Linked DNA regions of Homo sapiens. The protein of the gene in region 5 interacts with the protein of the main gene of each other region in a biochemical or structural test. Each region holds a gene or a part of one and is shown on either strand. Other genes may lie near its edges.

The links.
Region 1: of the proteins of MAPT (region 5) and MAPK8, one has a biochemical effect on the other in vitro, tested with the Homo sapiens proteins (2 studies listed by BioGRID).
Region 2: of the proteins of MAPT (region 5) and SRPK2, one has a biochemical effect on the other in vitro, tested with the Homo sapiens proteins (2 studies listed by BioGRID, with this or other methods).
Region 3: of the proteins of MAPT (region 5) and PTPA, one has a biochemical effect on the other in vitro, tested with the Homo sapiens proteins (2 studies listed by BioGRID).
Region 4: of the proteins of MAPT (region 5) and CDK1, one has a biochemical effect on the other in vitro, tested with the Homo sapiens proteins (2 studies listed by BioGRID).
Region 6: of the proteins of MAPT (region 5) and CAMK2A, one has a biochemical effect on the other in vitro, tested with the Homo sapiens proteins (2 studies listed by BioGRID).
Region 7: of the proteins of MAPT (region 5) and DYRK1A, one has a biochemical effect on the other in vitro, tested with the Homo sapiens proteins (2 studies listed by BioGRID).

The regions. Positions count from the first base shown.
Region 1 is NC_000010.11:48,421,677-48,425,176, reverse strand, and holds part of MAPK8 (mitogen-activated protein kinase 8), read right to left. Parts: intron 1,090-3,500; coding exon 1,018-1,089; intron 664-1,017; coding exon of another isoform or gene 592-663; intron 1-591. UniProt on the Homo sapiens protein: Serine/threonine-protein kinase involved in various processes such as cell proliferation, differentiation, migration, transformation and programmed cell death.
Region 2 is NC_000007.14:105,115,874-105,119,921, forward strand, and holds the end of SRPK2 (SRSF protein kinase 2), read right to left. Parts: intron 2,150-4,048; coding exon 1,965-2,149; 3' UTR 501-1,964; downstream 1-500. UniProt on the Homo sapiens protein: Serine/arginine-rich protein-specific kinase which specifically phosphorylates its substrates at serine residues located in regions rich in arginine/serine dipeptides, known as RS domains and is involved in the phosphorylation of SR splicing factors and the regulation of splicing.
Region 3 is NC_000009.12:129,114,415-129,117,914, reverse strand, and holds part of PTPA (serine/threonine-protein phosphatase 2A activator), read right to left. Parts: intron 1-3,500. UniProt on the Homo sapiens protein: PPIases accelerate the folding of proteins. It catalyzes the cis-trans isomerization of proline imidic peptide bonds in oligopeptides. Acts as a regulatory subunit for serine/threonine-protein phosphatase 2A (PP2A).
Region 4 is NC_000010.11:60,788,478-60,791,914, reverse strand, and holds part of CDK1 (cyclin-dependent kinase 1), read right to left. Parts: intron 26-3,437; coding exon 1-25. UniProt on the Homo sapiens protein: Plays a key role in the control of the eukaryotic cell cycle by modulating the centrosome cycle as well as mitotic onset; promotes G2-M transition via association with multiple interphase cyclins.
Region 5 is NC_000017.11:45,901,054-45,904,553, forward strand, and holds part of MAPT (microtubule-associated protein tau), read left to right. Parts: intron 1-3,500. UniProt on the Homo sapiens protein: Promotes microtubule assembly and stability, and might be involved in the establishment and maintenance of neuronal polarity.
Region 6 is NC_000005.10:150,286,974-150,291,195, forward strand, and holds the start of CAMK2A (calcium/calmodulin-dependent protein kinase type II subunit alpha), read right to left. Parts: upstream 2,801-4,222; 5' UTR 2,653-2,800; coding exon 2,591-2,652; intron 1-2,590. UniProt on the Homo sapiens protein: Calcium/calmodulin-dependent protein kinase that functions autonomously after Ca(2+)/calmodulin-binding and autophosphorylation, and is involved in various processes, such as synaptic plasticity, neurotransmitter release and long-term potentiation.
Region 7 is NC_000021.9:37,523,773-37,526,858, reverse strand, and holds the end of DYRK1A (dual specificity tyrosine-phosphorylation-regulated kinase 1A), read right to left. Parts: 3' UTR 501-3,086; downstream 1-500. UniProt on the Homo sapiens protein: Dual-specificity kinase which possesses both serine/threonine and tyrosine kinase activities. Exhibits a substrate preference for proline at position P+1 and arginine at position P-3.

The DNA.
Region 1 (3,500 bases), on a different chromosome or scaffold from region 5:
GAAACAATTCTAAGTGTTACTAGCTGGTAAACACATAACAAATCACTGTTAATATAAATATTAAAAGTAGTGGGATGAACAAAAAGTATGAATCCAAAGCTATCGTTACCATACAAAACTACTACTGCTGAAATTCTCAGATGAAAGGGTCAGTATGTTATGTGAGTAATGAGACAACAATCAAAAGACACAAACCACACAGAACATTAACAAAAAGGAGGTAGGGGACAAAACAAAAGGATGGCCAGAAGCAACAGACAGCTCCAAAATTCATATTAAGTTGTACGTATTTCTAGACTTAAGTGTATAATTATTATAAATTTTTAATGCAAGCCATGATTTTTGATTTAGGTTAAATCAACTCAAAGCCAGCAAGTAATTGTGCATAATTACAATTGAGCAGGGTTCAGAATTAACATATGAAACAATAAATAACGGAAGGAAAAGTCTATGTCAAATAGTAGGTGGTATTTTAAGAGTAATTTAACAATATATTAGGGAGAGACAAAATACATTATACCTGACCAAACTGAAGTGCTATCATACATTTTGACCTTTAGAAACTACATTTTAGGCCAAAGATAAGGATACGATCTGTACCTGGGAACAAAACACCACCTTTGATCATTTCTCCCATGATGCACCCAACTGACCAAATGTCAACTGAAAACAAAATGCAATGACATTAACATAAAGATTTTGGTTAAAATAAAAAAAAAAAGAAAGAAATAAAATCACACACACCATGTATACTTTAAAATTATAAAAAGCAGTATAAAATAAAAATGAGTGACAGTGAATGTGCTCTGACTACCAGCAGAGACTGTATGTCCTACTGCCAGATGCAGCCTACAAATATTTCAGCTTCTTATCTCAACAATTTTTGAACTATAATAGCCACAAACTTTATGCCTGTTTAAAAACCCATCTGTGTAAATGTAGCATATTCATTTTCATTAGAGAACATAAAGAAGTTCATCGCCTAACTAATTAACTGCTGCAGCAGCACAAGGATACAGTCCCTTCCTGGAAAGAGGATTTTGTGGCAAACCATTTCTCCCATAATGCACCCCACAGACCATAAATCCACTATATGTTTGCAGCACAAAAGAAGGAAAAGCAAAGCAAAAGGTCATTAAAATCAAAGAAGCATAATATGACTGCATTATATAAAAACTGCAAAACGTCACGAAAAGAAAAAAAGTGATTGTAACTTTAGCTAACGGAATAATTTAAAACACAAATTATTTTTTGAAAGTCTGGTTCACAAAAGAAAATGTAAAGTGTGGCATTTTAACTACATATCTAATTTCAAAGTGAGAGCTATGCACAGAAATTGCATAAATAGAAAAACCCTGCATGTTTGTCCCTGAGAACTTGTTTATAAAATATGAAATAGAACCAAACACAAACTTTGTAAATAAAAATGTACATGAGGTAGTAAAATTATAAAAATAAAATTGTTATACTATACTATTTAGAAGTTCAACTGTGCATTATACTCTCTAAGAAAAAAGCATGAGAAAATAATTCAGCATATTAAAATATCTAACAGAAATAATCTCTATGAATAATTATGATAAAAAAGTTAATCTAAAGCTCTTTGGAATTTTTAAACTGGATTTCCCAAATACATTTAACTGAGAAGTGCTATGCTTGTTCTGAATTAAAAGTCCATTTGTTTTCTTGGCAACATCATGCTACATTTACCCTACTATCCCAAAAGGAACAAGTGCACAGAGAATGAACAACTAATCAAGGAAAACTTAGTAAGAGAAATGTATTTCATGTTTCCTACCTAAAGTTTTTTAAACCCATAAAACCAAACTGCTTTTGGCTTAAGAAGTTAGTTTTGGCTAGATACAGTAAGTCAGTTCCCACGAATTGAGTATGAAGAGTCTCCTGGAAGACTTACTGATGACCCTTGCCAACTGTAAATGGGAATCCCAATCAATGTTGACAAGAATCTGCTAGACACAGAAACAGACAATTTGGAATCTCCACTTACTAAGGGAAACTGACAACACATCGTGGCATTTTATGCCTTTGGGTTTGAACATCACACAAAAAGGAGAGAGTAAGTGCTTGCAGTGTAACAGGAAAAGAGGGAAGAATGAGCAATTTAGAAGGAAAAGCCTTAGAAACTTGCATTTAGTTGTGACATCTGAAGGTCCCAATTCTTTAAAATGACAAGTGGAAAACGGCACAAATAGATGTCAGAAAGACACGTGCCCTTTACTCATGTTAAAGGACTTAGAAAATTAAAGCCTGTACTTTCTAATACAGTACATTCTTATTAAAAGGCTGCCAGTTCACTGAAGAGTCTTAAGAGCTAAACTGGAAATTACTTTTGGAAATACTGTGGAACTAAAGTTTCCCTAAAATGTCATATTAAAATGAATGAATATTTTCATATTTATGTCATGGTTCAGCTTTCAAGGATAAGATTTTAGAAAAAAAATTTAATATTTATAAATTAGTGCCTCAGAGAAAAATTTTTTCTAAGGTTTCCGTTTTTGACAAAAATCTATTAGAATAAATCTTCTCTACAGATTTTATAGAGAATGTTAAACTTTAAATATCCAGCTTACAACTTATTTGGTAACTTTCAGAAAAGCTCATTTTTAAACAAAAGTATTTTGAAAGCTGCAAGCATGAGAGAAGATATTATCTGGGCCAGTGAAGACTAGGAACATAAGTCTGATTCATGCACAACTCTAGCTGTAAACTAACTGCTTAGTCTATTAAGCAGTTAAAAATATATTGATTACACTGCTTTCCAAAATGCTCTGAGTAGCCTGCAATAAAAGGTACATAAAGCAAAGTTGTTAAAATGGGTGGGAGGCCAGGCGTTGTGGCTCAAACTCCTGTAATCCCAGCACTTTGGGAGGCTGAGGCAGGTGGATCACCTAAGGTCAGGAGTTCAAGACCAGCCTGGCCAACATAATGAGACCCTGTCTCTACTAAAAATACAAAAATTAGCCAGGCATGGTGGCACATGCCTATAGTCCCAGCTACTCGTAGGCTGAAGCAGGAGAATGGCTTGAAGCCAGGAGGTGGAGGCTGCAGTGAGCCAAGATGGCATGACTGTACTCCAGCCTGGGCAACAGAGTGAGACTCCATCTCAAAAATAAATAAATAAATAAATAAATAAATAAATAAATAAATAAGATAAATAAAATGAGTGTGAGGTGTCATTAAAAGGAGGAAGTACTTATGTTTAACCTTGCTGGCTAATGTAGTTATAATCATTAAGCATTACATTTGACTCCGTTTCCTAGGGTGGGAGTGGGAAGGCAAGAAGGTGATCTACATAATTCTTAACTAAAGAGGAACCATATGTCAGTTCATTTTTTATTCTATTTTATTTTTTGAGACAGAGTCTTGCTTTGTCGCCCAGGCTGGAATGCAGTGGTGCAATCTCGGCTCACTGTAACCTCCACCTCCCGGGTTCAAGCGATTCTCATGCCTCACCTCCAGAATAGCTGGGATTACAGGTG
Region 2 (4,048 bases), on a different chromosome or scaffold from region 5:
TTTCTCATAGAAATCACGGATAGCATCACCAGTCTACAGCCACTATCTATCACAGAATTTACATGGAAACCTACAGCCTCATTAGAAAAACTTAGCATGCAAATTTCATAAAGAAATTAATGAATGATCCATTCTACCTCACAGTGGTAATGTGATATAATGGTAATTCCTAAGAGGATTATGTGTCTTGTTTCCTAACAGCAAATGCTGTTTTGTTTTAAATTTGCAATGATCAAACAAATGCAGTTAGTATGTTTTTGATGAACCATGGATGAAAAGGGATCATTGATATTCTAGAGAATCAATCTATACTGTAGCTTTTCTCCTAAATCCCTTCTGCCCTTAAAAAACAATAAATGATTTCCTTATAATACGCCTCAATGCATGTTCTACAACTACATCTGCTGCAACAGGAATGCTGGTATTTAGTTTTAGTGACACTACTCTGATAGCAAATGTTCATTGATTCTATCATTTATAGGGCAATGACCAAGGCAATGTCTGGAAAAAAAAAAACCAAAACACTTTAATTTTTAAGACAACTGCAAGCACCTCAAACAATGGATTATTGTTACAACACTTGTTAGCTTTTCACAATCTAGTTATTGCAAAGGCATATGGATAAATGTTAATGGACAAAGTCAAAAACGAGGCACCTTAATGAATGTAAAATTTAAAATAAAAAGACATTCAATCCACTGACTTCTAAAAGAGGCTAAATATACCTCTATATATTACATTCTAAAATTGTATTGCCTACTATGGTTTGTATCCTGGAGTCTACAATTAATTTTAAGGAAATGCATAAACAAAACTGTGTGCAACCTGCAAAGGGAAAATCATTTTCTCAACTTCGTTTCATGGAAAGACAATGAAAAAGCTAGTAAAATTTGTTGTAGCCACACGTAAAGCTACCTATGGAATGAATGTGATCACTGTTATCTTTGAGCTGTGAGAAGTATTCTGCCCACTGCACTGCAAATTGTATATACCATACCTTGTGTTCTAGACAAGCATGATCATGCTTTTCCAAAAATATATGTATTTTTTCATTCCACACAATTAACACGTTTCTCCAATTTAATCTATGTAGAGCTTAACTTACAGCGCCCAGAGGAGGCAACATGACATGGTACTGAGCCATCACATTTTTAAAGGGAAATTGCTCTTCTTTAAAAGTACTTTTAAAAATATGCAAAATCACAAATGGGACTGCTAAATTATAATGCATATTTTAGAATGAGAAACATATCTTTTCTTCCTTTAAAGTGCCATATAGAGAATGACATCTTATAACCCAGAGCCACTTTGTTTAAAATCCAATGTGAAAAGACTGTTATGGAATGAAAAGTTTGCACAACTCCTTGGAGCAGTTAAAGTCCGCTACATGCAACATAGGCTACAAAGCACTCAAGACTTGGTAGCTTTTCTGAAATTTGAGTCCCCCTCCCATATTTAATGGAAAGTAACATTTACAGGGTGCATTTACATACACTATAATACAGGAATGATGTCCCTTTGCCAGAAGATAAAATTGTACATTTCCTTGCTATTTCTTGGTTCCAACTTGATAATTTCTTAAGATTGTAAATTATATAGTACTCAGCTAAAATATTTCTTCATAAATAGTTACAAAACCTGCCAAAACACAAAGGGGAAAGTATTTTTCATTCAAAAAAATGACATTTGAATGTCACACAACACAAGAAACAATGCTTAGAGACATGTTATTGTTTCCAGAAGAAAATGGTCAGTAAACTACTTAGCTGAAGACAAAAGACTACCCTTCCCCAGGATCACAGTGCACAAAAAGCAAAATGTCAAACAACAGTACCTCAAAGCAAAATAAAGGTCTGAGGATGAAGCCAGCTCACTTGTAATCCTGTTAAAGAATGAGAGTCACCGTTTAGGTCCAATGTACTGGGAACATTTGCTAGCTCAGAATGCAATATTGGTAGAATTTGCTAAGAATTCAACCAAGGATGCCGAAGGCATTCGCCAGCTGAGGCTCGTTTTTCTGGAACCATTTCTAACATCGGGATCAGGAAATCTGTAAACTGTGCAGCATCTTCATGGGGCCAGCCATACTTTTCCACAAGTACATCAAAGAGGCTCCAGGGCTTCAGCTTGGTGATGTGTCGCAGTTCTCCTACAGGGGAAAAAACAGGCCAATGTCAAGAAAGCTCCAAATCTGCATTCCCCATTGTTGGTCCAGTCAGGTTCTTTTCAGTGAAGCGGACAACCACCTGCTCAACACTTGTACAGCAACAACAAAGAACACCAGCTTTTCCCCACTAAGCAATAATCATTACATGTACATATGACCAAGGCATATTTCAAGTAAGCCTGGTGGATCTAAATAGAGGTTAATTAATAGTTCATTCACATTAGTTCTAAGCTTCTTTAAGTAAGTGGAGTGGGCTCAGTTTGCCCAGAGTGTTTTCTTTTCCAAAGGTTGAAGCAAGCCACTCTCATTTCAACCTGGGATCTTCCGTAAAATTTGCAAACTTGAGGCCAACCCAAATCAAACACCATTCATGTCTACGCATTTGTTGTAAGATCTAAGATCCTAGGACATTAATTTGTAAACCTTGAAGTTATACTTCACAAACTGTGCTAGCTGCAGTATGAAAAGTGTCGGTTACAGGCAGCTTTGGTTGACATAACAGAATGACTAACAAGCTAGTAAATGGCCTACGAGCTGTAATGGTCATTTCATAAGAGAAAAAAAAGGTTATTTTTAAGTCAAAACTGCAATAAAGGGCTGAGGGCAGTGGCTCACTCCTGCAATCCTAGCCGTTTGGGAGGCTGAGGCAGGAGGATCCCTTGAGCCCATGAGTTTCAGACCAGCCTGGGTAACATAGACCAGACCCTGTCTCTACTTAAAAAGAAAAAAAGTAGCTGGGCACGGTGGTACATCCCAGCTACTCAGGAGGCTGAGGCAGGAGCATTGCTTGAGTCCAGGAGGTCAAGGCTGCAGTGAGTCAAGGTCATGCCACTGCACTCCATCCTGGGACAGAGCAAGCGAAACCCTGTCTCCCCATAACCTTTTCAAAAAGGCAATAAACTGTCAAAAGCTCCAGATAATTTCACTGTGAATAACTCGTTTTCTCTGCCTGTTTGAAGTTTTCATAGGACATCCCACCCCTGCCCACAGACCTCCTTAGGTGCCCCTCAGTGCATCCTGAGCAGCTTCTGCAGAGGAAACACCCCCCTGTGCCCACACCTCAGAGCAGCCAGGTCTCGGTGGGGGGAGAGAGGCATTCAAGCACCTGCAGGGCACACTTCATGCAAGGACTGACTTCTCTCCCCTTTCAACTGCTTTAATTTAAACAAGGTACATTTTTTTCATGAGATGCATCAATAGATAATCAGTGCTCTGCTCACAAAGGTGTTCTCAGGAGGCTTGTTCTGTTTCACCCATTTATTCGAGTCAACTTGGAAAAGCCCTCCCGTTTAAAAACACAATGAAAAGGAAAGAGCATTACAGAAAAGTATAAGAACAAAAGGGGAAGTAGCCTACAATCCTACCCACAACTGCTCTTCTTTTGTGTCTATTGTGAAGAGTGTTCTTACACACTAGTATGTCTACAAAGTTGCAATCATGCTGTGCACAGGGTTCCGTATAAAGAATCTTTTAAGAGGGCTGCTTGCTAAAGGGGCTGAGATGTAAAATAAGCTTCTGTTTCCAATATGAGGACTGGAGCTAGAGTAAAGCATCGCATCCAGACTAGACATCAGGTCTGTGTTGATGAAGAAATGAACCTGTAATATTAGAGGCGGGAAAGGATCTCCTGTTGAAGGAAACACAGTCTCCATAAAAACAAAGTCTGAACAGAGACTGCAGGTTTATCCCTCTAAGCCTGAAATTCCGGCTCTAGGAATCCAGCCCAAGGAGATAAACCCTGGTTGCACCACCCCAAATTCATGCCTAATATATGCTGGCACAAAATTATATGTACTCGCAAAATTACGAAGAGCCAGTAATAGTAAAATGGTGGTTAAAAGAAAACCAAGGTAGATTCACTTAATAGTATTTAATATTACT
Region 3 (3,500 bases), on a different chromosome or scaffold from region 5:
CCAGGCCTGGGAAACATATTGAAACCCCATCTCTACTAAAAAATACAAAAATTAGCCTGACATGACGGCACACACCTGTAATCCCAGCTACTTGGGAGGCTGAAGCAGGAGAATCGCTTGAACTGGGGAGGCAGAGCTTGCAGTGAGCTGGACCGTTCCACTGCACTCCAGCCTGGGTGACAGAGTGAGACTGTCTTAAAAAAAAAAAGAGGCTGGGTGTGGTGGCTCACACCTGTAATCCCAACACTTTGGGAATCCGAGGCGGGTGGATCACTTGAGGCCAGGAGTTCAAGACCAGCCTGGCCAACATAGCGAAATTCCACCTCTACTAAAAATACAAAAAATTAGCCAGGCATGGTGGCGCACACCTGTAATCCCAGCTACTCGGGAGGCTGAGGCAGAAGAACCGCTTGAACCCAGGAGGCAGAGGTTGCAGTGAGCCAAGATCACGCCACTGCACTCCAGCCTGGGCAACACAGCAAGACTCCGTCTCAAATTTAAAAAAGAGAAAAAAAAGATAGGCCCACATAATAAAAATTTTCATAGCTTATAAAATGAATAAAATCTAGGCCAGGCACAGTGCCTCCCGCCTATAATCCCAAAACTTCGGGAGGCCGAGGCAGGCAGATTGCTTGAGTCCAGGAGTTTGAAACCAGCCTGGACCACATGGCCAAACCCCATCTCTACAAAAAATACAAAAATTAGCCAGGTGTAGTGGTGCACACCTGTAGTCCTAGCTATTCGGGGGCTGAGGCGGGAGGATCACTTGAGCCCAGGAGGCTGAGGCTGAAGTGAGCTGCACTCCAGCCTGGGTGACAGAGCAAGACCCTGTCTTGAAAACAAAAAAAAATTAGAAACAACCCAAATATCAGTTGATAAGATGATGTGTAATTAATTATATGCCCACATAATGGAAATTTTCATAACTTGTAGAAAGAAGAAAATCTAGACCAGGCACAGTGGCTAACACTTGTAATCCCAGCACTTTGGGAGGCCCAGGCGGCAGGATCGCTTGAGCCCAGGAATTCAAGACCAGCCCAGGCAACACAGGGAGACCCCCATCTCTACAAACAATTTAAAAATTAGCCAGGTGAAGTGGCTCATGTCCGTAATCCCAGCACTTTGGTAGGCAGAGGTGGGCAGATCACCTGGGCTCAGGAGTTCAAGACCAGCCTGGTCAACATGGCGAAACCCTGTCTCTACTAAAAATAACAAAAATTAGCCGGGTGTGGCCGGGCACAGTGGCTCACGCCTGTAATCCCAGCACTTTGGGAGGCCGAGGCGGGCGGATCACAAGGTCAGGAGATCGAGACCATCCTGGCTAACACGGTGAAACCCCGTCTCTACTAAAAATACAAAAAATTAGCCGGGCATGGTGGCGGGTGCTTTAGTCCCAGCTACTTGGGAGGCTGAGGCAGGAGAATGGCGAGAACATGGAACTCGGAGCTTGCAGTGAGCCAAGATCGTGCCACTGCACTCCAGCCTGGTCAACAGAGCGAGACTCCGTCTCAAAAAAAAAAAAAAAAAAAAGAAACCCTGTCTCTACTAAAAATACAAAAAAAATTAGCTGGGCGAGGTGACGCATGCCTGTAATCCCAGCTACTTGGGAGGCTGAGGTGAGAGAATGGCGTGAACCCAGGAGGCAGAGCTTGCAGTGAGCCGAGATCGCGCCACTGCACTCCAGCCTGGGCAACAGAGCGAGACTCCGCCTCAAATAAAAAATAAATTAGTCAGGCGTGGTGGCGAGTGCCTGTAATCCCAGCTACTCAGGAGGCTGAGGCAGGCAGAATCGCTTGAACCCAGGAGGCAGAGGTTGCAGTGAGCCGAGGTCGCGCCACTGCACTCCAGACCAGGCGACAGAGCGAGACTCGTCTCAAAAAAAAAAAATTAGCCGGGCATGGTAGCGCACACCTGTAGTCCCAGCTACTCGCGAAGCTGAGGCAGAAGAATCACTTGAACCCAGGAGGCAGTTGGCCAGGCGCGGTGGCTCAGGCCTGTAATCGCAGCACTTTGGGAGACGGAGGCTGGTGGATCACCTGAGGTCAGGAGTTTGAGACCAAGCCTGGCCAACATGGTGAAGCCCCATATCTACTAAAAATACAAAAAAATTAGCCAGGCGTGGTGGTGGGCACCTGTAATCCCAGCTACTCGGGAGGCTGAGGCAGGAGAATCACTTGAACCCAGGAGGCAGAGGTTACAGTGAGCCAAGATCACGCCACTGTACTCCAGCCTGGGCAACAAGAGTGAAACTCCATCTCAAAAAAAAAAAAAATGCAAACTCTCCCTAAAGTGGAAGAGTAAAGGACTATCATCAATCACTCACAACCTGGTATAAATTTGTCCCCCTGCCTTCCTCCTAAAACCTGGCTGACATCAGCTACATGGAGAAAAAGGGACAGGGACCTAAGAAGTTTCTGGAACATATAACATTTGGAGAAATAGAGCCTGTCTGGAGAGGAACTGAAGAAAAGAAAAGTGCCAGGGGACTTGGAGACCTAAGGAGAAGGATAGAGAACCTGAGTTTAGAGAAAGACAAATCTCTGCCTAACTCAAACCAAGGCCCCAGAAAGAGATCAGAAGCTCTCTTCCTCCTCCCACCTGTCCTGCAAGCTCTGTTCCCAGAACCCAAAACTGCTATTAGTAAATTGGCACTTCAACTAAGATGCCAAATAAAAAGCTTTGTAGGTCAGACTAGTAACCCAACCACATTGCTTTTATGGGAAAATGTGTCCCACATTCCAAATAATCAACTTGGAAATAATCTTTGGGAACATACAGCCCTTTTATATGTGTGAGATCACCATTCTCTGCAAAGGGACAGCTCTCCTCGGAGGTTGCACTGAGCCAAGATCATGCTACTGCACTCCAGCCTGGGTGACAGAGTGAGACTCTGTCTCAAAAAATAAAAATAAAAAAAGGGATGGCACTCCTGACATTATTTAACCGGGATATTTCACAGGAAGAGAGCCTTCAGGCCAGTCCATGTTTGGGAAAAGGCTACCTTACCAGGAAGCACTATAACAAATTACTGATGAAACACACACAAGTTGCCAGAACACACAATCCCAAATCAAAGAAACAAGCCTTCAAAGGCAGGATGGTGATAAATGAGGTCACGCCCACAGTCTCTCCAGCCTCAGGTTATAGAGACATAGGTTCCAAGGGACAGTGGATTCCCAACAACCTCACAGTATAAAATCAACATTCAGAATTTTAGAAATGTTCCTTCCTAAGCCCCCCAACAAAGACTATAATATATAGCATTATCATTGGCCATTTGAAACTCGTCTACATGTTCAACCTGTACAACTTTGAAACTTTGAAAAAGATAAGGGCAATCAGCATTTACTGATCGCCTACTATGTCCCATGCTTTGCACACATCTTATAAAACACATACTACAATTCTATGAAGAAAGTATAGTAGCCTATAGTTATTTTAAGAAATAACTGAGGCTTTTTCTCAGGGAAAAAAAAAGAAATTTTAAAAAAGAGAGAAGT
Region 4 (3,437 bases), on a different chromosome or scaffold from region 5:
GAGATCTGTACCAGAGTGTTACTACCTATTAAAAAGCAAATTTTTACAATGAATAAATGTGGTGCATAAAATTACCTACACTTAAACATTTATATTTTTATTAGGGCTGTCCTTTAAAGGTTGTATGACTGCCACCAATAATATTGTTTAAGTCAATTAAAGGTACACAAAATTGAAGATAAATATTTCATTTCTAAGTTCTATTCATTAGAAGACAAAACAGATAAAAGCATAATAAATATTTTTTTGCTTTTCAAATCACTAAAGATCAAGACAGTTATACAGCCTTATCTTCCCCCCACTGAAAAACCAAACCCATTGATAATAGATTTGGGGTGACACTGAACAAAGTGCAGGTACTGCTTACTTGCTAAGATGGTACTAACAGTACCATTATAACATGAATAAGAAACATGAGAAAGAAATAAAGGGCATCCAAATTGCCAAGGAAGAAGTCAAATTGTCCCTGTGTGCAGAGATGATCTTATATATAGAAAAACTTAAAAGACTCCACCAAAAACTCTTAGAACTGATTAACAAAGTTGCAGTATACAAAATCAAAATCAGCATACAAAAATTAATAGTTTCTATACACCAATAACTAGCTGAAAAATAACATCAAGAAAGCAATCTAATGTACAATAGGTACAAAAAACCTAGGAATAAATTTAACAAATGAGATGTATAATCTCTACACTAAAAACTATAAAACATTGAAGAAAAAAATTTAGGAAGATACAAAAAAGACATCCCATGTTCATGAACTGGAAGAATTAATATAAAAATGACCATATTACCACCCAATGCAATCTACAAATTCAGTGCAATCTCCATCAAAATACCAAGGACATTCTTCACAGAAATAAAAAGAAATCCTAAAATTCATATAGAACCAAAAAAGACCCACAATAGCTAAACCAATCTTGAGCAAAAACAACAAAGCTGAAGGCATCGTATCACCTGACTTCAAAAATGTATTACAAAGCTATAGTAACCGAAACATCATGATATTAGTATAAAAAAGGACGCAGAGACCAACAGAACAAAATAGAGAATCCAGAAATAAATCCATGTATTTACAGTCAACTCATTTTTGAGAAAGATGACAAGAACATTCACTAGGGAAAAGCCAATCTCTTCAATAAATGGTGCTGGAAAAACTGGATAATCCACATGCAGAACAATGAAACTAAACCCCTATATCTAACCATACACAAAAATCAACTCAAAATGGATTAAATAAGACCTTAAACTATGAAACTATTGGAAGAAAACAGAGGAAACACTGTTATTGATATTGATCTGGACAAAAATCATATGGATAAGACCTCAAAAGCTCAAGAAACAAAATCAAAAATAGACAAATGAGGCCAGGTGCAGCAGCTCATGCCTATAATCCCAACACTTTGGGAGGCCAAAGCGGGAGGATTGCATGAGCCCAGGAGTTCGAGAACAGTCTGGGAAATATGCTGACAGCCCCGTCTCTAAAAAATTTAAAAATCAGCCTAGCATGGTGGTGCATGCCTGTGTATGGGCCCAATTACTCAGGAGGCTGACGTGGAAGGATCACTGGAGCCCAGGAGGTTGAGGTTGCAGTGAGCCCTGTTCACGCCACTGCATTCCAGCATGGGTGACAGAGAAAGACCCTGTCTCAGCAATAACAAATAGACAAACAGGATTATATCGAACTAAAAAGCTTCTGCACAGCAAAAGAAACAGAATGAACAGAATAACAGAATAATGCAACAATCTGCAGAATGGGAGAAATTATTTGCAAATCATTCATACAACAAAGAATTAACATCCAGAATAAAAAAAATAGTAAGAATCCAATTTTAAAAATGGTCAAACAATCTGAATAAAACTTTCTCAAAAGACATACAAAGACCAGCAAGTATATGAAAAAGTGCTCAACATCACTATTCATCAGGGAAATGCAAATCAAAACCACAATGAGCTATCACACCCAGTTAGAGTAATTATCATCAAAAGACAAAAAATAAGTGCTGATAAGGATGCAGAGAAAGGGCAACTTTTTACGCACTGTTGGTGGGCTCTTAAATTAGTAGAGCCATTATGAAAAACTGTTTAGAGGATGCTCAAAAAACTACAAACTAGAACTACCATATAATTTTGCAATCCCACTGCTGGGGGTATATGTCCAAAATAAATAAAATCAATTATGTCAAAGAGATATCTGCACTCCCATGTTTATTGAAGCACTATTCACAATAGTCAAGATACAGAATCGACCTGTTTCCATCAACAGATAATGTGGTGTATACATACACACATACAGAAAATGTAGTGTACACACACATACGTGCACGCAATGGAATACTAGAATACTACTCAGCCATAAAAAAAGAATGAAATTCTGTCATTTATGACAACAAGGATGAGCCATGAAATAAGCCAGGCACAGAAGGATAAATACCACATGTTTTCACTCATATTTGAAAACGTAAAAAGTTGATCTAATGGCCATAGAGTGGAATAGTGGTTATTCAGGGCTTAGTAGAGGAAGACAGAGATAAGTTGGTTTATGGATACAATTACAGCTCAAAAGGAAAAATAAGCTCTAGTGTTCTACAGCACTGTAAGCTGACTACAGTTACCAATAATTTACTGTAAATTTTCAAATAGCCCAAACAAAGAATTTTGAATGTTCCCAACAAAAAGAAATAATAAATGCTTGGGGCAATGGATATGCTAACTACCCCAATTTAATCAATACACATTGCATACATGTATCCAAATACCACACTGTACCCCATAAATATGTATAATAATGCGTCGATAAAAAATGATTTTTAAATTATTTAAAAAACGTGAATAAGTCAAATAACAGATTAGTGATCTAGAACTAACCAACCATTTTAGTATATTTATCATATGGTAAAAATATTGCCTGTTAGAACAAAGCTAATGAGGTCAATAGCATTTGTTTAAGACAAAGAAAACAAAATAATCTTAGTTTATTTATATAGCCATGTAAAAAAATGATAAAGACTAACAAGCAGCCAAGACATCTAATCAGATGAGCACTGTTACTAGTTTTGATCTGGAGACAGTCTTTGGGTCAAGGGTAGACAACTCCACAGAAGACAGCCTTTCAATAATCCTTTATTATACAATGTTCCCTTTCCTTCAGAAACACTAAATGCCAAGTCAGCAATATAACACAGATCAAACATAAATTATAGTTAGCAATTCCTAAATGTATCAGAAATAATATACCTTAAGGAACAAAACCTGTCTTTGAATCAATCTGACTATAATCAGGGAGGGTTCAGTCAGGAGACAGAAACCAAGGTGGTGATTTGAATGGGGAGAGTTTAATATAAAGAATTAAAGTACAACAAAGGATGGGAATGATGTAAATAAATAAAGTAAAAAATAATGAAAATGTAAAAACTGTAGCTAGGAAAACTCCT
Region 5 (3,500 bases):
GAAAAGTCGGCAACTACCCAGCTCCCCTGCACCAAACTGGGCAGAAGTGGATCCTCTGAAAATTGCACACACCCATGTTTAAATGTACACACAGAACTCTTGCCACAGGCAAGCGGAGATTTGTCATCTGCTGTCCCTGCCTCATCTTCTTCCTGAAATCCACTCCATGCCAGGAATAAACTGCATGCTCTCCACCAGCCCAAACTGACCTGCCTTCCCGCCAGCCATCCCGGGCAGGGTGACCTGGCTTAGTACATCGGGTTCAGAGATCTTTCCAGTTTACTCGTTGAATAAAAAGTGAGGGCTGATCGAGAAAGTAATGGCAGTCAGGGAAGGCGAAGGAGGTAAAGAAGAGATTTTACAAATGAAGTAATTCAACAGAGTGCTGACATTGGTAAACTGGCAAACAGATTTCAGGGTGGTTGGTTGAGAGTAGAGTAGAAAAGGATTAAATAAAGCAAACTTGTGGTGTACTGAATCTTAGGAATTCCATGTATCCAATAAGTATAGTCATTTATGAATTAATAAATTCGGCCTAAGAAGCCTTCTTATCGCTTAAATCAAGACTAAGTAACAATATATCAGTTTTAAAAAGTCATTATATCAGAAAATCATTTAAATGATACACATAGATTTCCAAGATTTTACTTTAACCGAAACTATATAAATGTGAATTTGTTCACCCATCTTTTGACACAGGGCTCAGGTCTTCTCTTGGTGTCTGGATCAGCCAGTTGAAATTTCTTGTCTGTTTTGCCTATGCCACATTAATAATGCACTGTCTGGGTCCTCCGATTTCAGTTTGGATTTTGGGTTTACATTGTGGAGTCATCTGAATGCAGAATCCTTCAGGGATTTTACTTTTTTTTTTTTTTTTCATGGTCTTTACCATCCCATTTGATAGTAAATATTACTCACCTTTATGAAGTCTTTCCAAAACATTCAACTAAATTTTCTTAAAATCATTGAATGATTTGAAGAGCTTATTCCTCAGCACTTTTACTCCATCAGCTTGCACCTTATTTTTTAATCTTTTTTTGAGACGGAGTCTCGCTCTATCGCCCAGGCTTAAGTGCAATGGCGCGATCTTGGCTCACTGCGACCTCCACCTCCTGGGTTCAAGCAATTCCGCCTCAGCCTCCGCCGTAGCCGGGACTACAGGTACACACCATAATGCTCGGCTGATTTTTGTATTTTTGTAGGGATGGGGTATCGCCATGTTGGCCAGGCTGGTCCCGAACTTCTGACCCAAGTGATCCACCCACCTCGGCCTCCCAAAGTGCTGGGATTACAGGTGTGAGCCACCGCGCCCGGCCAGCTTGCACCTTATTTAGGATATGTGATTATTATAGCAAGTCTGGTGTACATACAAGATTTTGAATGGGCACAGATGACCTTTAGTAAGTGCTTGGCTGTGATAAGAGGCAGTCCTGACTGCAGATCAGGCTGTGTGGACCCCAGCCTTGCATGTTTACAGACCTTCATGTCTTATTCTTACAGGGTATCAGAAGAACACCTACTGGGGAAACTTATAAATTAGTAAAAGGTGGGCATTCTCCCCGCCCATCTTCTGTCTGTCTGCCAGGACTAGCACAGCACTTTGAAGTCATTCACATAGAATCCCAACTTAAGAGGGTAAAATCCTCCTCAACAGACTGAAAATAAGTTTAAATTCCCTTTGCTATATTAACTCCCCTGAGGAAAGAGTCTTAGATCAATGTCCAACACTAAAAACAGTTTTAAATCAGCAAGTGAGAATTAAATCTGAAGCAATTGATAATAATGTTTCATTCATTCCTCTCCTTTGGCCCCGTCCACCCTACTGCTAAATCCAGGCATCAAAGAGAAGAGGGACATAATTATCTCTAGTCCCAGCTGCTGGTTTTCCTTCCAGCCTATGGCCCAGTTTTCTGTTTTACTGAGAAGGCTGGTGATGTTATCTTGGGATCTAAGTCTGCAGTTTCACCACAAAAAGTCCAGGGATGCACTTTCATGCTTGTGTCCTCCTCCCTGGGATAGCAAGGATATTAGAAGACCCCTGGCTCTGTAATTGCTTGTCATGTGCTCTACAGACGCCACAGAATGCCAAGAACGAAGTGCTGGGAAGGACAAATTCATGGAACCGTGGGACGGTGCTCCTCCCCCAGCGTAAAGGACAGCTCCTCCTCCTGAATTGGAGCCAGCGTTCTAAATCATGTGTCAACAGAGTTGTCCTGGATCGGATCCAGTTCTGCCATTGATTTGCAGGTCATTTCAGTGGTACCTGTTTCCAGTTGTTCTTAATTGAACAGTGGCACCAAACTATTGTCTTGCCTCATCCCCCTCCCATGGCCTGTCCCCCAAAAAGAGACTTCTTGGGTAATTAATCAGGGCAACATCAGGCAGTCTGGGCGCGGTGGCTCACGCCTGTAATCCCAGCACTTTGGGAGGCCGAGGCGGGCAGATCATGAGGTTAGGAGATTGAGACCATCCTGGCTTTGTGAAACCCCGTCTCTACTAAAAATACAAAAAATTAGCCGGGCGTGGTGGCGGGCGCCTGTAGTCCCAGCTACTCGAGAGGCTGAGGCAGGGGAATGGCGTGAACCCGGGAGGTGGAGGTTGCAGTGAGCCGAGATCGCACCACTGCACTCTAGCCTGGGCGACAGAGCTAGACTTCTTCTCAAAAAAAAAAAAAAAAAGGAATCTCTTTGGTTTTATATATATTTTTTTTATATATATAATATATATTAAAATATAATATATATATTTATATAATATAATATATAAATATATTATATATTATATATTTTATATATTATATATTATATATATTATATATTATATATTTATATATTTATATATTATATATATTTATATATTATATATTTATATATATTATATATTTATATATAATATATATTATATATTATATATTATATATTATATATTATATATTTATATATATTATATATTATATATATTATATATTATATATTTATATATTATATATTTATATATATTATATATTATATATTATATATTTATATATTATATATTTATATATTATATATATTTATATATATTATATATTATATATTATATATGTATATATTATATATGTTATATATTATATATATTTATATATATAATATATTGTATATATTATATATCTAATATATTATATATATTATATATATTATATATTATAATATATATTATATATTATATATTATATATATTTTTATATATATAATATGTATAATATATAATATATATAAAAACATATATAATATATATTATATATTATATATATATTATATATATTATATATATTAAATATATTTTATATATATTATATATATATACACATATATATATATAAATGAGGCCAGGCTCGGTGGCTCACACTTGTAATCCCAGCACTGTGGGAGGATCACTTGAAGCCAGGAGTCTGAGACTAGCCTGGGCAACAAAACAAGATCCTGTCTCTACAAAAGGAAACTGTAAAAATTAGCTGGGCA
Region 6 (4,222 bases), on a different chromosome or scaffold from region 5:
CTACAGGTGGGGGTAAAGAGGTAGCATAGCCTGCCTGGTGTCACAGAGCTATGGGTGATGAGGGACAGCGCCTGTGTCCCTAGTGGCTACGCAGGGCACTGCCCCTCCCTGCACCACTGGATGCTCAGACTGAAGCTGCTGTGGAGAGCAGGAGCCCCAGGCTCCTCAATGATGTGGTCTGGACTTTTTAACACAGACATCAGGGGTGCGGAATCAGTCCACTTTATCCCCTTGTCTCTAACACAAGCTTCTGCAAACTTAGGCTCATACACAGTCTTCCCGATGTCCCTGCAAGCTCCTGACATTGCATGCAACATTTCGTAGGTTTGTGCGTTTTTCTGGGGAACGTAGATTTAGACTTTCATCAGATTCCTGAAGGAATATGTGACCTAAAAAAGGTTAAGAGCAGTCTGATGGTTCTGGAAGGAAGAAGTCTGAAATTGATTAAACAAGGCCTAGCTATGCCTGCTACCCTCGGTTTTCCTGCCATGGCCACACCAGGGCTCCCTTGCCCCTGAAATTCTCTGTGAAGGCTCACGAAGGGTCTCTCTACCAAGTTGCCCCCACAAAACCCAGTCTTAATGATATCCATCTCCTCTTGGGGCAAAACATCACTTTTATTTTCACTTTGAGCACTTGAGTCACATCTCAACTCCATCTCACTGTACTCATGACGCAGTCCTGCCAGGACCCAGTCTTGGTCACTCCCTGAAAGGCAGCTTCATGGCTAATCAGGGAATTCTTGGGTTCTAGGCGAGCACTGGAAAACACCTGGAGAGGGGTCCCTGCACAAGTTTGTAGACAGCCTCAGTCCTCCAGAGCAGCCCCAAACATTTTGTTCCTGCCCCTACCCGCAAAAAAAGCACATTCAGAAAAGCTGAAAGTCTGCAGATAAGAGTGAACACACGTACACATGGGGGTATATGTGCTCAAGGGAGGTGGTGCATGCCTGTAGGATAGCCTCTGTGTGTGTGTGTGTGTGTGTGTGTGTGTGTGTGTGTGTGCAAGCAGCCTTCCTGTATACAGTCACAGGGCCACCTCCCACACATATGCAGACACCAGCATGAGCTCACACATGCCTATAACACCCATACTCCCACATAACCCTGTGAGCCCAGGCCTCACACATGCACACACATGCGTGTGCACACACACGTACATCATCCTGTGTGCATGACCCCAGTCTTCACGTAGATGTGCATATCAAGACCTCACAGGAACACCATTGTGTCCGCATCTCATATGAGCATCCTCACACACCCCTAGACCTCACACACATGTGCCTTCCTATGTGCACACAGCTCTAACCTGCCATACATGTGCACATTTAATGAGTCATGTTTACACCCTTGTTCTCATTCAACCCAGCCAACAGCACTCTTGTAATACTCACACACATGCACCCTTGCAAGGCACACTTGCATTTTCAGGCCTTACACACGAAGCACCTCTTCCTGGTGCACATGCATGAATGCTTGCACACCCTGGCAGGGCACACCAGCGTACCCCAGTGTCACAAGCAATTTCCCTCAAAAGCCCTTCTACAGCCACACACATCACTCCTCAAAATGCACACTAGTACACACACATTCAGAACTCACACCAATACACACCTGCCTCCAGGGCCCCTCCCCCCGTGCTCCTGCTGCCTCAGCAGAAACCAACCAGGGCATCGGTGCTCCTTTGCCCACAAGGCAAACTCTGCCTCCAAAATGCACCCAACCCTTGACCCATCCCAGGATCCTCCAGAAACCCAGCTGGGGACATCCAGGAATCCCTCCCTGACACTCCACACCCTACTGGGCCACCCACAAGGGCCTCCCCTCTTTCCTCATCCTCCCATCCTTCTCTACACAGCAGTCATCAGGGCAGAAAATGAGCTCTGGGCTGGGCAACTTTGCTTGTCCAGAGCCACTGCACCCTTCATACCCTAGCCCCTGAAACAGCGGTGCTCCCCGCTACAGCTTTCCTGATTTCCTCTCCCCACCTCCCAACACCCGGGAAGCCTGTCATGCTCAGATATTAACCCCTACTGTACTGACGCCCTCACTCCTGGCAGGAGCTGAGAAAGGGGAGGTAGGGAGGGAGAAGTTGGCCACTCTGTACAGTCACTGTGGGTGTCTAAAGTCAGGAAGAACTACCGGGAGCTGGTGAATTCTCTGTCACTGGAGGTATCTAAGTGGAGGGCGGATGGCCACCTCAAGCAAAACTAGAGAAGGAATTCCAGCTTTGGACCCAGCTGACTAGGAAAATCCCTTTTTAACCCTAAGTCTCTAAGAATCTGTGTGTATCCAGGTTGTGTGTACTTGTGTGCATTTTGTGTGTATGTGTGTGCACTGGCATACACTGTCAACCCTTCATCCCTACATACACACTGGCCTGGCTAGCTTGGCACATCTGTGCACCCACAAACATACCCACGCCCGACTCTGGACACTCTGTACACAGGCAGGTGCCCCCAAACCCATGCAGCCTGCCTTCATCTGTGTACAAGGAATGCTCCCCAAGCACTGCAGGCACACACACCCCACTAGAGACCCTGACCTCCCCGCCCCCCATGCCTTCCAGGACTTCCTGAGGCACAACTCACTTGCCCAATTCCTCGAAGAGCTGGTACTCTTCCGTGAAGCGGGTGCAGGTGATGGTGGCCATCCTGGCGCTGGGCAGGCAGGTGAGGCTTGGGACTGGGGGACCAGGACTGAGGCGCTGCTGCTCTGCTCCCGAACCTAGGGACCACTTGCCTGCCCGTGCTGCCGAGTGCAAACAGAGAACCGGTTTGACTGACGAGCCCGGGGCTTCTGAGCAGGGCACTGTGGCTGCTCACAGCCTCGCGAGCCTTCGTCAGCATCCAGGTCCCCATGGCAACCACCTCCAAAACGCCCTGTTCCCGTTGCCCCGGTAACTGCCTCCCCAACACCTGCCTGCCTTCCACTGCGAAACCTGCTCTCGGACGCCCTGACCATACCGCACACAATACTGCAAGCCTGTGTGGGCCTGGGGGTGGGATGGACCCAGCACCCCTGGGGTGATGGACCCAAGGAGGGCCTGGAGGAGGTGGAATAGAGCAAACTTTGTCCACAAGTGATCTTTTCTCTTCCCACCTCCCCCACCTCCAACTGTGGGGCCCTTGTAGCAGACGGGATGGGATTAAGTGGGGCAAAAAGGCAGTTGCCATGGTAACAGCCAGTGGGTGCCGCATTCCGGATGGTCCCCAGGAACGAATGACAGGATGCAGTTACCCTGGCAACTTCATCTCTAGAGAGACAGGTATTGCCCCGTTGCCCTGGCAACAGCTGGGTTCTAAGGTTTACAGGGAAATGATGGCTAATTCACAGGGATGGCTCTCCCTCTGTGGATCACTGTAGTCTCTGTAACTGTCTCTCTGTTGCCCTCTGTTTTTTTTTTTTTTTTTTTTTTGCTTCTGCCTCTGTCTTTCTTGTTATGCTCGTGCTCTTTCAGCTCTCTTACCACCTTGTCCATCACACTAGCACTCCAGCTTGGCGCAGAAGTGCAGAGGACACCCCAGGATTCTGGAGGGAACAGCCCTGACTGCCTGCTCACCCCCACCTCTCACAGCTGTGACAGTTGCTCCCCTCCAGAGCCCTCCTCTGCAACCTCTCCCCAACCCCATGCCCCCAACGGGACCATGGAAATCTGGTCTCCTGGTGCTCATGTCCCAGTTTCTGCTTGTGCTTCCAGTCAAGGTAAAAAAAAAAAAAAAAAAAAAGGCGAGAGGGGGCTGTGGGGAGGTGAGCATAGCATGGCTTACCCGGGCTAGGCCACTGGCCAGAGACTTGCCATGAAATCTTCAATCCAAAATTTTCTGGGCACCTTCCCTGCCAACTTCAACTCTTCAGGGCATCAGCCATACCTACAGCCACAAGATCTTACTCCAAGGTCTTGGAGTTAGGAAGAAAAGGGACTGGAGTTTAAGACTAAGGATCTGAGTTTGAGCTCTGATTCCTGGACATTTATTATTTATATTATTTATTTATTTATTTATTTATTTTGGAGACAGAGTCTTACTCTGTCACCCAGGCTGGAGTACAGTGGTGCAAGCTCGGCTCACTGAAGCCTCCGTCTCCTGGGTTCAAGTGATTCTCCTGCCTCAGCCTCCCAAGTAGCTGGGACTACAGGCGCACACCACCACGTCTGGCTAATTTTTTGTGTTTTAGTACAGACAAGGTTTCACCATGTTACCCAGGCTGGTCTCAAACTCCTG
Region 7 (3,086 bases), on a different chromosome or scaffold from region 5:
GGGGAATAACATTTCCCTAATTGAGATTCAGAGCTAGTGTTGTGAATCGTCAAAACCAATTGCATATTTGCATATATTTATCTGTTAATGCTGATTTGGAATGAGATGTGACACAGTTCATCTTTGAACATGTCTTCACACAGATAGGTACCTTCCCAACACTACTATGTCCATGAGCATTTTTTTTTTTTTTTTGAGACAGGGTCTTGCTCTGTCACCCAGGCTGGAGAGCAGTGGTGTGACCTCAGCTCACTGCAACCTCTGCCTCCCAGGCTCGGATGATGCTCCCACCTCCATCTCCCAAGTAGCTGGGACCACAGGCATGTGCCACCAAGCGAGGCTAATTTTTGTACTTTTTTTTTTTTTGTAGAGACAGGGTTTCACCATGTTGCCCAGGCTGGTCTTGAACTCCTAGGCTGAAGTGATCCTCCCATTTCAGACCCCCAAAGTGCTGGGATTACAAGTGTGAGCCACTGCACCCAGCTCATGAGCATAAGATGTTTAGCTTAGCATATTTATTACATAAAACACATTTATACATTTTTATAAGATTCTATTAGACTCTATTAAATTTTTCTTTAGATAGTTGCCTTTCAACACATTAATCACTTCTCAAATGCAGATCAATGGATTCTGAAATATAAAAATTTCTTTTGGGTTTGCATTGAGGTCCCTAACACACTGCTCAAACTGTAGTTTGGGCTCAGATAATGTATCTGTGGCAAATGTGTGTGGGAATGGAGCTCTTCTTTTTTTAACTTTTAACAACATGGGAAGAGCTTAAAGCAGTAACATTAGTTGTGATTCAAACAATAGTTCTTCTTGAAATCACTTAACACAGTAGGAGTTTCACATAAACACTGTTTTTATCTTGTGGTTTAGGCTGAATTCCTTAAGAAACACTATCAAGTCTGCAGCAAAAGTGAATTTCCAAAACTATTCAGTGTTTAGTAACGGTGGTTCGGGGCAGTTCTCATTCAGAAAAATTTCAATCTTTGTCCTGAGCTCAAAACTTAAATGAAACTTTACCACTACTAAACCATTGAACTGCTGTATTACAGGCCATGTCGGGATATTCAGCTAATATTTCTGACAAAAATTCATGAGAGCTGTTGATAGTGAAGTCCACAAGAGCTAAAGGAAGTTCACTATTGACAATACTGGTTCAATAATGCATGATAGATTCAAATATTTCTCACAAAGTATCTGTTGACTTAAATAATACAATGAATAATCTATAGGCTTTAACACCTTATATTATTACAAGCTTTGTAAGTTGTCCAACTGAGCCATTTTCTATTCCACACTGATATGAGTTAGCTGTGTCCCCACCCAAATCTCATTGAATTGTAGCCCCCATAATCCCCACGTGTCATGGGTAGGACCCAGTGGGAGGTAACTGAATCATGGAGGCAGGATTTTACCATGCTGTTCTCATAATAGTGAGTAAGTCTCATGAGATCTGATGGTTTTATAAAGGGCAGTTCCCCTGCACACACTCTCTTGCTTGCCGCCACCTAAGACTTGCCTTGGCTTCTCCTTTACCTTCCACAACGATTGTGAGGCCTCCCCAACCATGCGGGACTGTGAGTCCATTAAACCTCTTTTTCTTTATAAATTACCCAGTCTCAGGCTTTTCTTTATAGCAGTATGAAAATGGACTAATACACACATATATTTCCACTACCAACAGTCATAACACATCTTAGCAGATTCCACTTCAGGGTGTACTGAATTCGTTTTCTCAACTTTTTGTTTTGAGACAATGTTCTCACTCTGTCATCCAGGCTGGAGTACAGTGGTGCAATCTCAGCTCACTGCAACCTCCACCTCCTGGGTTCAAGCGATTCTCCTGCCTCAGCCTCCTGAGTAGCTGGAATTACCAGTGCATGCCATCATGCCCGGCTAATTTTTGTACTTTTAGTAGAGATGTAGTTTCACCATGTTGGCCAGGCAGGTCTCAAACTCCTGACCTCAGGTGATCTGCCCACCTTGGCCTCCCAAAGTGTTGGGACTATAGGCATGAGCCGCCACACCTGACCAGTTTTCTCAGCTTTGAAAATACTTTTGCCAGTAGTTGTTCCACATAAGACTATTGATAGAGGCCAATTCTTCAGTTACTTCCAACTTGGTACTGGCTCCTCAAATAAAGAGCAATAGCGGAGCAGTGTGCATAACATATGGTGACCCCTGTCATGAGAGTCAGGGGAAACCACTCAAAACCATTTGCCTTTTTAGTCGACTACTGATGTCATTCCTAATGTCAACTCTTTGAGCAACTGTTGTCGTGGAAAGGCCAATAAACAAGTTTACTTTCTCTGAGCATGTTTCTTCAGCTGCAGTAATCAAGCATGATTTAATTAATTCACCATAAGTGACTTTCCTTGCTTGGCTAACAAATGAGCCATCTGAAACTTACTTTGGTTGTAGCTTCATTTTCATTTTTTATTTTTGTGAATAAATTCTGTGATGAGATATTCAATTTTAAATTTTCTAATTTTTCTGACCATTGCTTTCTTGTGAATTAGAAATATCTTGATGAGTGCTAAGATGGGAAGTAACAACATGTATTTTGGTTTTTTTTTACTTTTTGTGGAGATGGGGGGTCTCACTATACCACCCAAGCTGGTCTCCAAATCCTGGGTTCAAGTGATTCTCCCACCTCAGCCACCCAAATCGTTGGGATTACAGGCATGAGCCACTGCACCTGGTTGTATTGTGTTCCTTAGGACAGCTACCATGTCATTGCACTTTGCTGCCTAATTCAGTAACAATTCATACTCCATTGTACCTTAAAAGCACAATGATATTTGAAATCCACTTTTCTTGTATATATTGGTAATAAAAAATAAAATGTTGTAGCATGGGAATACAAGTGGCATTCAAAATGCTGCTGAGTTATAACTGTGTCACTGCAATTTACATTGCACAGAGCGGCAGGGCAAAATGATGAGAATGCCACATATTCTCATCATACGGTCTCTGCAGCAACTACTCAATTCTGCCACAGTAGCACCAAAGTGGCCGTGGACAACTTGCAAATGAATGTGGTTATGTTCCAATAAAACTTCATTTATGGACACTGA